Homo sapiens: one gene and its partners. The protein of the gene in region 1 purifies or fractionates together with the protein of each later gene. This does not show direct contact. Each region holds a gene or a part of one and is shown in the gene's direction. Other genes may lie near its edges. The genes, in order: ARID1A, BCL7A and DPF2.

Region 1 (3,651 bases):
TATTCCCCTCCCCCACAAAGGAAAACAAAACAAAATAAGACACGTGCATACTGCCACATAACTGGCATGAGAAGCAAAGCCACGGAAGGCTTTTGAGGTGACTCCATGCATATTCCTGCCATTCTCCCTGATACTCAGATCTCATAGTCAAGCCTTCCCTGTCTATAGGGAAAGGGAGCATTGGGTTAGGTTTCGCTCACTTCTGATTGGGTGGGCTTCAGGGTTCACTGAACCTAGGATGAGGTACAGAGAGAATTCTAATGCCTGAGCCTGTCTTCCAGATTGGAAAAGGATGCAAACCTTTAAAATGCCGTGATTGTAACTGAACTTTTATAAAGGCAGTGATAATTCAGGGGCAAAAGAGTGCTATTTATAAGTTAGTTTGTGAAGGCTCCAAGAAAGCAAAGCTGAATCTTGAGCTTATCTAAAGGATTAGTAGGGTTTAGGTGGAAGAGTGGCCAATCCAGTAGACTGGCCTAGATGCCACGGAGATGGGAGAGAGTCTAGATATTTCCCACCAAGGCCATCTCCAACCATGAAGACTTAGCTCAGGTGTTACCCACTCTAAGAAGTATTCCTAGTCACCTCTGCCCCTCTAGGTTGTCCCCCTCTGTGCCTCTTTAAACTCTTCTTTCTAGTATCATAGGTATCATATCAGCAGACATTACAACCTATTGAACTTCCTTTGTGTATAGGGACTTGAAAACCCTTGTTCCCAGGCCTTGGGGGAACAGGCTTACCATATGGTAGATGAATAAGCATAAGAATACATGAAGAAGGAGACCTGTCCAGCTAGAGCAGAAAGACTAATTGTAGGGAGCATCTGGGGAATGGGCTTGGTCAGTGTGCCCTGAAGCTGAGGGAAGGAGGCAGAACTGTAGGTTGGCTGCTCGGGAGGTACAAAAGTCATAATAAGGCCCCGGGCCAGGCGCAGTGGCTCACACCTGTAATCCCAGCACTTTGGGAGGCCGAGACGGGCGGATCATCTGAGGTCAGGAGTTTGAGACCAGCCTGGCCAACATGGCCAAACCTTGTCTCTACTAAAAATATAAAAATCAGTGGGGTGTGGTGACAGGCACCTGTGGTCCCACTACTTGGGAGGCTAAGGCAGGAGAATCACTTGAACACGGGAGGCGGAGGTTGCAGTGAGCCGAAATGGCGTCACTACACTCGAGCCTGGGTGACAGAGTGAGACTCTGTCTCTAAATAAATAAGACCCTGAACACCCGGACCATCAGGACAGTGACTGGTAAGGGAAAGGGACCTGTGGTTATTTGTCAATGAGATATGTAGGGGAGCAGTGGCACAAGAATGTCAAATTTGCAGGGAGCCACCACCCCAAGAAAAAAATATGAGTAAATCCCAAGTTTGACAAAGCAAGTCAAGCAGGGTGGTCACTGATATTATCATGAGTCTCCATTTTATAAAATGTTAGTTTTTATTAGTGCATCTAAAATAGGATTTAGGGCCAGGCGCGGTGGCTCACGCCTGTAATCCCAACACTTTGGGAGGCTGAGGCGGGTAGATGACTTGACGCCAGGAGTTTGAGACCAGCCTGATCAACATGGTGAAACCCCGTCTCTACTAAAAATACAAAAATTAGCCAGGCGTGGTGGTGCACACCTGTAATCCCAGCTACTCGGGAGGCTGAGATAAGAGAATCGCTTGAGCCCGGGAGGCAGAGGTTACAGCGAGCCAAGATCACGCCACTGCACTCCAGCCTAGGCGACAGAGCGAGATTTATTTTTTCTGTCTCAAAAATAAATAAATAAAATAGGATTTAGATATCCAGATGATTTGTACACCACTTTTTAGCAGCGTACTAAAAAACCGGACTCTGAATTCTGTTCCAGTAGTAATGTGAAATTTGCCCTGTTGTGAATAAGCACAGTCTGATAGTTGCAGTGGAACATCCTGAGGGTAAAATGAAGCCAGCTGCAGATTTAACACTTCTTGTGGACTATCCACCAAGCAAGATTAACTTTTTCAATTACCTAAGAACTGTGGTTCTACAAAGATGAATACCTTACAGCCTGATGGGGCTTGGGGCTTATGGGCAGGAAAACCAGGCGGGAGATATACCTCGACTCCTTTGGTTTGGTTATACAGGTCAACAAGAACAAAAAATGGCGGGAACTTGCAACCAACCTCAATGTGGGCACATCAAGCAGTGCTGCCAGCTCCTTGAAAAAGCAGTATATCCAGTGTCTCTATGCCTTTGAATGCAAGATTGAACGGGGAGAAGACCCTCCCCCAGACATCTTTGCAGCTGCTGATTCCAAGAAGTCCCAGCCCAAGATCCAGCCTCCCTCTCCTGGTAAGGATGGGGTCAGCGGCCCCACCAAGGCTGAGAGGGCCTGTTGCCCTGGCCTCTTATTCAGGATATGAATAAGAGGCTTATCCAACAGGATATGCCAAGGATCTGTGCTCTGCCTTGCCCTACCACAGGGCTTAACAGGTTGGCTGACTAGAGAGTGGGCAGTGGAAACTCCCTTGGGAGGTACTCTACGGCAGCTCTTAAGTTTTAATTTTTGTTGTGCAGCTGACAACTTGCCAAATGTTTGTAAACTGGTGAATGGGAGGGGCACAAGAGGAGTCGGTGGAACTTATAAATGGCAGCAAGGCAGGGCCATCTGGGAGCTTTGGCCTATTGATGTCAGCACCTTAGAATGCAGCTCAGACTAGAGCCCTGAATTCCCCAGGGAGCTGAGATGGTAATGAATGGGAAGGAGGGAGTGGGGAAGGGTTATGAATGGAACTCCCTGATGGGAGTGGCTCTGCTCACCCTCCTTTCTGAGAGGAGGCTGAGGCCTAGGGTGAGCCTAGAGAGGGAAGAAGGCCAGGGTGCCTGGAAGGTGGGTGTAAACACATGTGCCCTGGTGTTGACCTCTGAGGGTGTAATGAGTGCCTGAGATGACTCATCAGCTGGGGAGGCCTCAGCAGTGGGATATCTACTGCTGGGAATGGTAACTATTGGAAACATTAATTACTAGTAGTTTTGTACTCATCAGCTTAGAAGAACATTTGAAGTTGAGGAGTGACACCATGCTGGATGCTTTAGAACAGGAGCTCCTAGACTCCTAAAATGCATCCCAGATTTGGGACCCCCTTCCCACCCAGGACTTGGGAGGCTCTGACTGGAGCTCATGCACCAGCATTACAGGGTTTAGTAGGTTAGACAAGGTCCTTTGGCGGAGTGAAGAGAAATAGCCAGGGAAGCTGGCAATGACTCAGGGAATCACCAGCATGGTGATGTCATGGCCACATCACTCCTCTTTTCTACACGTAAAACAAAAACAAAGAGCTACAAAACCCTCAGATTCCCGTCTTTATGACCTGGCCTTGTAGATCCTCTGCTAAGAAGGGTGATCAGGCTTTAAAGGCCTTAGGAAGAACTTTCCCAAAGAGATTCTGGGTCGTTCGTGTGTTTGTGTGAGAGTTAAACACTGTCATGCCAAGCAAACTACTCAACTTGTATCTCTGTCCACAGCGGGATCAGGATCTATGCAGGGGCCCCAGACTCCCCAGTCAACCAGCAGTTCCATGGCAGAAGGAGGAGACTTAAAGCCACCAACTCCAGCATCCACACCACACAGTCAGATCCCCCCATTGCCAGGCATGAGGTAAGGCCAAGAGCAGGGGCAGATGGTT
Region 2 (3,651 bases), on another chromosome or scaffold:
AATGCCTACTTCATAAACTCACTGTGAGGATTAAATTAAATAATCTCTTAAAAACCTTGGCATGGGACCAAGCACAGTGGCTCACACCTGTAATCCCAGCACTTTGGGAGGCCGAGTTAGGAGGATCACTTGAGCCCAGGAGTTTGAGACCAGCCTGGGCAACACAGGGAGACCTCATCTCTACAAAAAAAACAATAGGTGGTTCGTATCTATAGTCCCAGCATTCTGGGAGGCCAAGGCGGGCAGATCATGAGGTTGGGAGATCGAGACCATCCTGGCTAACACGGTGAAACCCCATCTCTACTAAAAATACAAAAAAATTAGCCAGGCGTGGTGGCTGGTGCCTGTAGTCCCAGCTACTCGGGAGGCTGAGGCAAGAGAATGGCGTGAACCTGGGAGGTGGAGCTTTCAGTGAGCCAAGATCACGCCACTGCACTACAGCCTGGGCGACAGAGCAAGACTCAGTCTAAAAAAAAATAGATTAAAAAAAAAAATAATAATAATAATAAATTTAAATTAGCAGGTTGTGGTGATGCGCACCTATAGTCACAGCTACTCTGGAGGCTGAGGATCATTTGAACCTGGGAGTTGGAGGCTGCAGTGAACAGTAATTGCACCACTGCATTCCACTCTGGGCAACAGAGCAAGACCCCATCTCTTAAATATATATATATATATAATATATATATTATATATATTATATAATATAATATATAATATAATTATAGTAAATATTTTATTTTGGGCCAGGTGTGGTGGCTCATGCCTGTCATCCCAGCACTTTAGGAGGCCGAGATGGGAGGATCATTTGAAGTCAGGAGTTGGAGACCAGCCTGGTCTCTATGGTAAAATCCCATCTCTACTAAAAATACAAAAATTATTGGGTGTGGTGGCACACGCCTGTAATCCCAGCTACTTGGGAGGCTGAGGCAGGAGAATCACTTGAACCTGGAGGCAAAGGTTGCAGTGAGCTGAGATCATGCCACTGCATTCCAGCCTGGGCGACAGAGCAAGACTCCATAAAAAAAAAAAATTATTTTACTGTATTCAAAAATAGAGACAGGGTCTTGCTATGTTGCCCAGGCTGTTTCCAAACTCCTGAGTTCAAGCAATCCTCCTCCCTCAACCTCCCAAAGTGCTGGGAGTATAGGCATGATCCACTGTGCCCAGCCTATAATAAAAATTTTAAAAACCTTGGCATGTTAACAGCTCACATTTATGAAACCGTCACAATGTGCCAAGTATTGTGCTAAGCCCGTTACATCATTGCCTCATTTGAGTCTAATAACCAACCGCATTTTACAGATGGAGAAACTAAGGCCCAGTGAGGTGAAGTAACATGCATGGTTAGCAAGTTCATAACTTCCAGTGCCATTGATGGCATTTGAGGTTGGTTCTTTGAAGACAGAATCCAGGTTTGTGGCTGGCCGTGGTGGCTCACACCCATAATCCTAGGACTTTGGGAGGCCAAGTTGTGAGGATCGTTTAAGGTCAGGAGTTGGAGAGCAGCCTGGCCAAACAATGGTGAAACCCCATCTCTACTAAAAATACAAAAATTAGCCGGGCATGGTGGTGGGCACCTGTAATCCCAGCTACTCGGGAGGCTGAGGCAGGAAAATCCCTTGAATCGGGAAGGGGAGGTTGCAGTGAGCCAAGATTGCACCACTGCACTCCAGCCTGGGCAAGAGAGTGAGGCCGTGTCTCCAAAAAAAAAAAAAAAAAACCAAAAGATCCAGATTTGTGACCTGGATAAACTCTCCAGAAAAATCTAGGATGCTGAACAAACCAGGTCCCCAGACACAGGTGCCCTGTTGACTTTCTGATTTTCATTTTAGTGCACGTGCAGCCGAAAGCCAGTCAGACTGCAGAGTGTGTAAATGGGAAGGTCAGGGAAAGGTGTGGGCCGGGCAAGTTTTCTGGAAGGCTTCAAGTGGGAGGATGGGTACAGCAGGGGATGAAGGAGAGGGCGGTGCCCCGGGCCCTTTAGTCCACAAGACTCAGCTGAAGTTAGCCCAAGTATCAGGGTCACGCTGTTACCAGGCTACCAGGCTAGACCAGACGTTAAACATTAGTGCTCATTGTCATTCATTAACAGAGCCTCAGGAACCTACGGGGCCAGCCTCTTGCGCGTGTGCTTGCCATAGGAAGGAAGTCTAGTTTTTCTCAAGGGAGAAATCGGGGAGCACACATCCTTCTTTTTTTTTTTTAAGTCCCAGAATTCACAAGAGGATGCTTTTGTGTAACGAGCACCCCAGAGTACAGTTAAAATCAGATCCAGGTTACCCGTGTGGGGCCGCCTGACTGCCTGGTGCTTCCTCGGCAGGTTGAGGTAGAGGAGGGGCGTGGGGCTGGGAGTTGGGCAGATGGGTCCGGCAAGTGGCTCTGCTGCTCCCAGCCTCAGTTTCCCCCTCCGGAAAGTGAAGGTGGTAACGGTGCCTTTCCAACGGGTTGTGGGGAGGATTCCACGAGGTGTCCATAAATGCTTCTGCCCAGTGCCTGGCATGGTGGCAGGTGCCCAGGTCTGTTGGGGTGTCTCTGTCTCTTTCTCATGTTTACAAAAGTGGCCATCGCCCCGGGTGCAGCATGGCCCCCAGAAAGGCTGCTTTGGTTTTGAAACCTCCACTTGGGTCTCTGCTGTTTAAAACGACTCTCCTAGGTTGGGCACAGTGGCTCAGGCCTATGATCTCAGTGCTTTGGGAGGCCAAGACAGGAGGATCACTTGAGCCCAGGGGTCCAAGACAGCCTGGGCAACATAGTGAGACCCCATCTCTACAAAAAACTTAAAAATTAGCCAGATGCAGTGGCACATGCCTGTGGCCCCAGCTACTCAGGAGGCAGAGGCAGGAGGATGGCTTGAGCCTAGGAGTTCGAGGCTGCAGTGAGCTATGATTGTGCTGCTGTACTCCAGCCTGGGCAACAGAGCAAGACCCTGTCTCTAAAAATAAAAAATACATAAATGGCTGGGTGTGGTGGCTTACTCCTGTAATCCCAGCACTTTGGGAGGTTGAAGCGGGCAGATCACCTGAGGTCAGGAGTTCAAGAGCAAGCCTGACCAACATGGCGAAACCCCGTCTCTACTAAAAAATAATAAAAACAAAAGTTAACTGGGCATGTTGGTGCATGCCTGTAATCCCAGCTACCTGGGAGGCTGAGGCATGAGAATCGCTTGAACCAGGAGGTGGAGATTATAGTGAGCCGAGATCGCGCCACCGCACTCCAGCCTGGGTGACAGACTCCATCTCAAAAAAATAAATAGAGTGACTCTGTGCCTGAGAAGGGGGTGCAGGACAAGGGGAGGTGCAGCCCGGGCCCCAGCTCTGCCCCCAGCCCAACTGTAAATGCCATTGCCCAATTACCCCTTCTCTTTCTTCTTTGTATTGTGAAGGGTTTTGTTGTCAAGAACAGTAGAGAGAGGAATACGATCCCCCTGTACACTCCACCTTGATTTTCATGAACACGGTGCCACATTTGTCTCATCTATTTTTTCAATGTGTTAGATTTTTGTAATTAAAATATAATTCACATATAAAAAATACACAGCTAGTGGCCGGGTGTGATGGCTCACACCTGTAATCCCAGCACTTTGGTAGGCTGAGGTGGGCAGATCACCTGAGGCCAAGAGTTCGAGACCAGGCTGGCCAACATGGAGAA
Region 3 (3,651 bases), on another chromosome or scaffold:
CACTGCACTCCAGCCTGGCAACAGCAAGACTCCATCTCAAAAAAAAAAAAAAAAAAAAAGAAGCCGGGCACGGTGGCTCATGCCTGTAATCCCAGCACTTTGGGAGGCTGAGGCGGGCGGATCACAAGGTCAGGAGTTTGAGACCAGCCTGGCCAAGGTGGTGAAACCCGTCTCTAGTAAAAATACAAAAATTAGCTGGGCATGGTGGCGTGCACCTGTAGTCCCAGCTACTCAGGAGGCTGAGGCAGAAGAATCGCTTGAACCCAGGAGAGATCACACCACTGCACTCCAGCCCAGGCGACAGAGCGAGACTCCGTCTCAAAAAAAGAGAGAAAGTCTTTAAGCGTTCTTACTAGGAAAGTAAAATAATAGTATAGCTGTAGCTGCTGATTGGTTTTGAAACTTTCTAGGCAAAATCTAGAGGCAGGGCGCGGTGGCTTACACCTGTAATCCCAGAACTTTGGAAGGCCGAGGTGGGCGGATCATGAGGTCAGGAGTTCGAGACCAGCTTGGCCAACATGGTGAAACCCTGTCTCTACTAAGAATACAAAAATTAGCTGGGCGTGGTGGCGCATGCCACTCGGGAGCCTGAGGCAAGAGAATCGTTGGAACCCGGGAGGCAGAAGCTGCAGTAGGCAGAAGCTGCAGTGAGCCGAGATTGCACCACTGCATTCTAACCTGGGCGGCAAAGCAAGACTCTATCTCAAAAAAAAAAAAAAAAAAAAAAATATATATATATATATATATATATATATATAGAGAGAGAGAGAGAGAGAGAGAGAGAGAGAGAGAGAGAGAGAACAATGTTAATGTTAACTTGACATTTCTTGGTATCGGAGCCTTAAGTTTTTGTTATTGCTTTTTTTTGTTTTAAGAGACAGAGCCTCCCTCTGTCCCCCAGGCTGAAGTGCAGTGGTATAACCTTGGTTTACTGCACCCTCAACTTCCTAGGCTCAAATGATTCCCCTACCTCATCCGCCCCAGGGGCTACGTGGAACCACAGGCATGCATCACTAAGCCTAGCTGATGGTTTTTTTGTTTGTTTGTTTTGTTTTTTTTAATTTTATTTTTTTTGAGACAGAGTTTCGCTCTTGTTGCCCAGGCTGGAGTGCAATGGCGCAATCTCGGCTCACCGCAACCTCCGCCTCCCAGGTTCAAGCAATTCTTCTGCCTCAGCCTCCCCCGTAGCTGGGATTATGGTCATGTACCACCACGCCCGGCTAATTTTGTATTTTTAGTAGAGACAGGGTTTCTCCATGTTGAGGCTGGTCTCGAACTCCTGACCTCAGGTGATCCGTCCACCTCAGTCTCCCAAAGTGCTGGGATTACAGGCGTGAGCCACTGCGCCAGGCCTTTTTTATTTTTATTTTTTAACGTTTTGTAGAGATGGGATCTCACTATGTTGCCCAAGCTGGTCTCTAACTCTTGGTCTCAAGAGATCCACCAGCCTTGGCCTCCCAAAGTGCTGGGATTATAAGCATGAGCTACTGTGCCCGGCCTCCCTTAAGTTCTTAAGAGCTCACTGTCATGCTGTCTTGTTCTCTCTTCATGAGATTCTCCCCCCACACTTCAGTGTTTCCTTCCCAGCCCTTTTACCCCCAAGACTGTTTGCCTGCCTTATGTAGCTCACAAGAGCCCTGACAGAACATCTCTCATTCATTCCCCGCAAAACTGTTTCCAGCCTCCTTGCTCTGACTTTGCAGCACTCGCCAGCCTGGCCCTGCCTTCCATTTGACTTCCAGTGTCCGTATCAATTCCCATCAGCAGAAACAAAGGAGCTGCCGCACTCAACCTTGTTTATCCAATTTTATTCTGTGTGGTGAAGACGTGGCTGCCTCCTAAAGGCGAGCCCACAGAGGCAAGGCTGCCTTCTCCATTCTGCTCTCCAACGTGAGATTCGTGCCTACCTCAGATTACAGTCATTACAGCTCATTGAATCACGCCAGGCTATATTTGTGGCATTGCCGTCTCTGTGTGTCGTATGTGTCTTTTTTACTTGCTGGGCACATGCTAAGTTATGCAGTGGTCTATTGTGGCTGCTCACTGAAGGACCCTGTCACATTCTAGAGCAGGGTTTGTTGGTGTAGCCCGAGTTACGGACAGAAACCACAGAGACTTAATCTGTTTGCTGTCTCATCCCCAGGCTGTTTCTTGTAAAATCCTGATATGTCAAAGCTCATTTGGTCCAACCTCCTCAATCTATAGAAGAGTAACCAAGGTCCACCTGGGCTGACTAAGTGTCCATGTTCGTGTGACTTGCAGGCAAGCCAGGTCTTTTTACTCTCAAGTCAAGTCTGACTGTATCTCAGACATCGTCATGAGTATTAGGGATACTATGAGAAATAAATCAATTCTGCCCTTGGTTTAAGATTGATTGACGCCAGGTACTGTGACACATGCCTCTATTCCCAGATACTTGGGAGGCTAAGGCAGGAGGATCACTTGAGCCAGGAGTTTGTGTCCAGCTTGGGCAACATAGTGAGACCTTGTCTCTTAAAAAAAAAAAAAAACAAGATTGATTGAATATAAGATCGAGTTTGTTAACCTCCATTACCAAAGTCCTTGTTAAACCCTGCAAGATGAGAACAAGATAGGTTCTATATACACGCTTCTTAGAACCAGATAACTCCTGGCACTGTGCAGTTTTCCAGTTTTCCACTTAAAGATTTACCCTTGATTCAGATTTCAAATTGAGTCTTTTGAGACCAAGAAGATTTTTTCCTATATAATTTTATTTTGTGAGAATGGAGAAGAACCCTAAGATGGGCCTTAGAGCAAACAAGTTTCTTATGAGTGATGGTGCTCAATAAAAGCTTCAAGGAACTTCAGGTACTTGTAGACATCTTCCATAAATGTAAAATTAATTAGTTGATTAAAAACCTAGTTCAAAATTCAAAAGATATAAAAAGGCATATGGAAGGAAGTGGCCTAGTCACCCACTTTTTCTCCCCGCTGACCTGCAGTTTCTTTTCCATTTTGTTACATAAATGATAGTTTTATTTGACGCTTCTCAGCAGTGTACCTTGCTTTGCTTTTTGTCCCTAGTTAACTTGAAATTGTTTAATATCAGTATGTGAAGAGCTTCCTTCTTATGGCTAAGTAGAATTTCATTGTATGGATTTACCATAGTTTGCTAAATACATTTTAATAAGTCCCCTAGACTTTGAACTCTTTCCCTCTGGAGCAGACCTTGGGGCAAGGATGTGGGAGCATGTAGTTTATTTGGGAGGTGATTCTAGGAAAGAGGGAATAAGGAGGAACTTAGGAGGGACTATCATCTGCTTCTTAGCCTCATAAGGGTTAAGAGAAATAGCATCTTAACTAGCACAGGGGTGGGCTTGTGAGACACGTGGAGTGAACATTCTTTCACCTCTTTGGGGGTTAAACTTAAGTCTGATTAGACATATGATGAAATCATGTGTTCCTGATGGTAATTTATTTGTAAAGTAATTCCTCATGATGGCCTAGAAAAGGGGCTTCGTGTCCCATGAGGCAGAAGTGGAGGCAAATAGAACGGAAGAGACAGCCACCCAGTCCCTTGAGCCTTCTAGAGAAGCAGATGGCAGGGGAGAGGAATAGCTCAGCACCCTATGCCCCCCGCTCCAACATACACGCCTGATTTCTATCTTCCCTGCAGCCTTGGGGAGCAGT

What was found.
Region 2: the proteins of ARID1A (region 1) and BCL7A purify together in Homo sapiens (affinity purification with mass spectrometry; 6 studies listed by BioGRID and IntAct, with this or other methods). This does not show direct contact.
Region 3: the proteins of ARID1A (region 1) and DPF2 purify together in Homo sapiens (affinity purification with mass spectrometry; 8 studies listed by BioGRID and IntAct, with this or other methods). This does not show direct contact.

Annotation. Positions count from the first base shown.
Region 1 is NC_000001.11:26,769,010-26,772,660, forward strand, and holds part of ARID1A (AT-rich interactive domain-containing protein 1A), read left to right. Parts: intron 1-2,109; coding exon 2,110-2,317; intron 2,318-3,490; coding exon 3,491-3,623; intron 3,624-3,651. UniProt on the Homo sapiens protein: Involved in transcriptional activation and repression of select genes by chromatin remodeling (alteration of DNA-nucleosome topology).
Region 2 is NC_000012.12:122,038,828-122,042,478, forward strand, and holds part of BCL7A (B-cell CLL/lymphoma 7 protein family member A), read left to right. Parts: intron 1-3,651.
Region 3 is NC_000011.10:65,336,748-65,340,398, forward strand, and holds part of DPF2 (zinc finger protein ubi-d4), read left to right. Parts: intron 1-3,637; coding exon 3,638-3,651. UniProt on the Homo sapiens protein: Plays an active role in transcriptional regulation by binding modified histones H3 and H4. Is a negative regulator of myeloid differentiation of hematopoietic progenitor cells. Might also have a role in the development and maturation of lymphoid cells.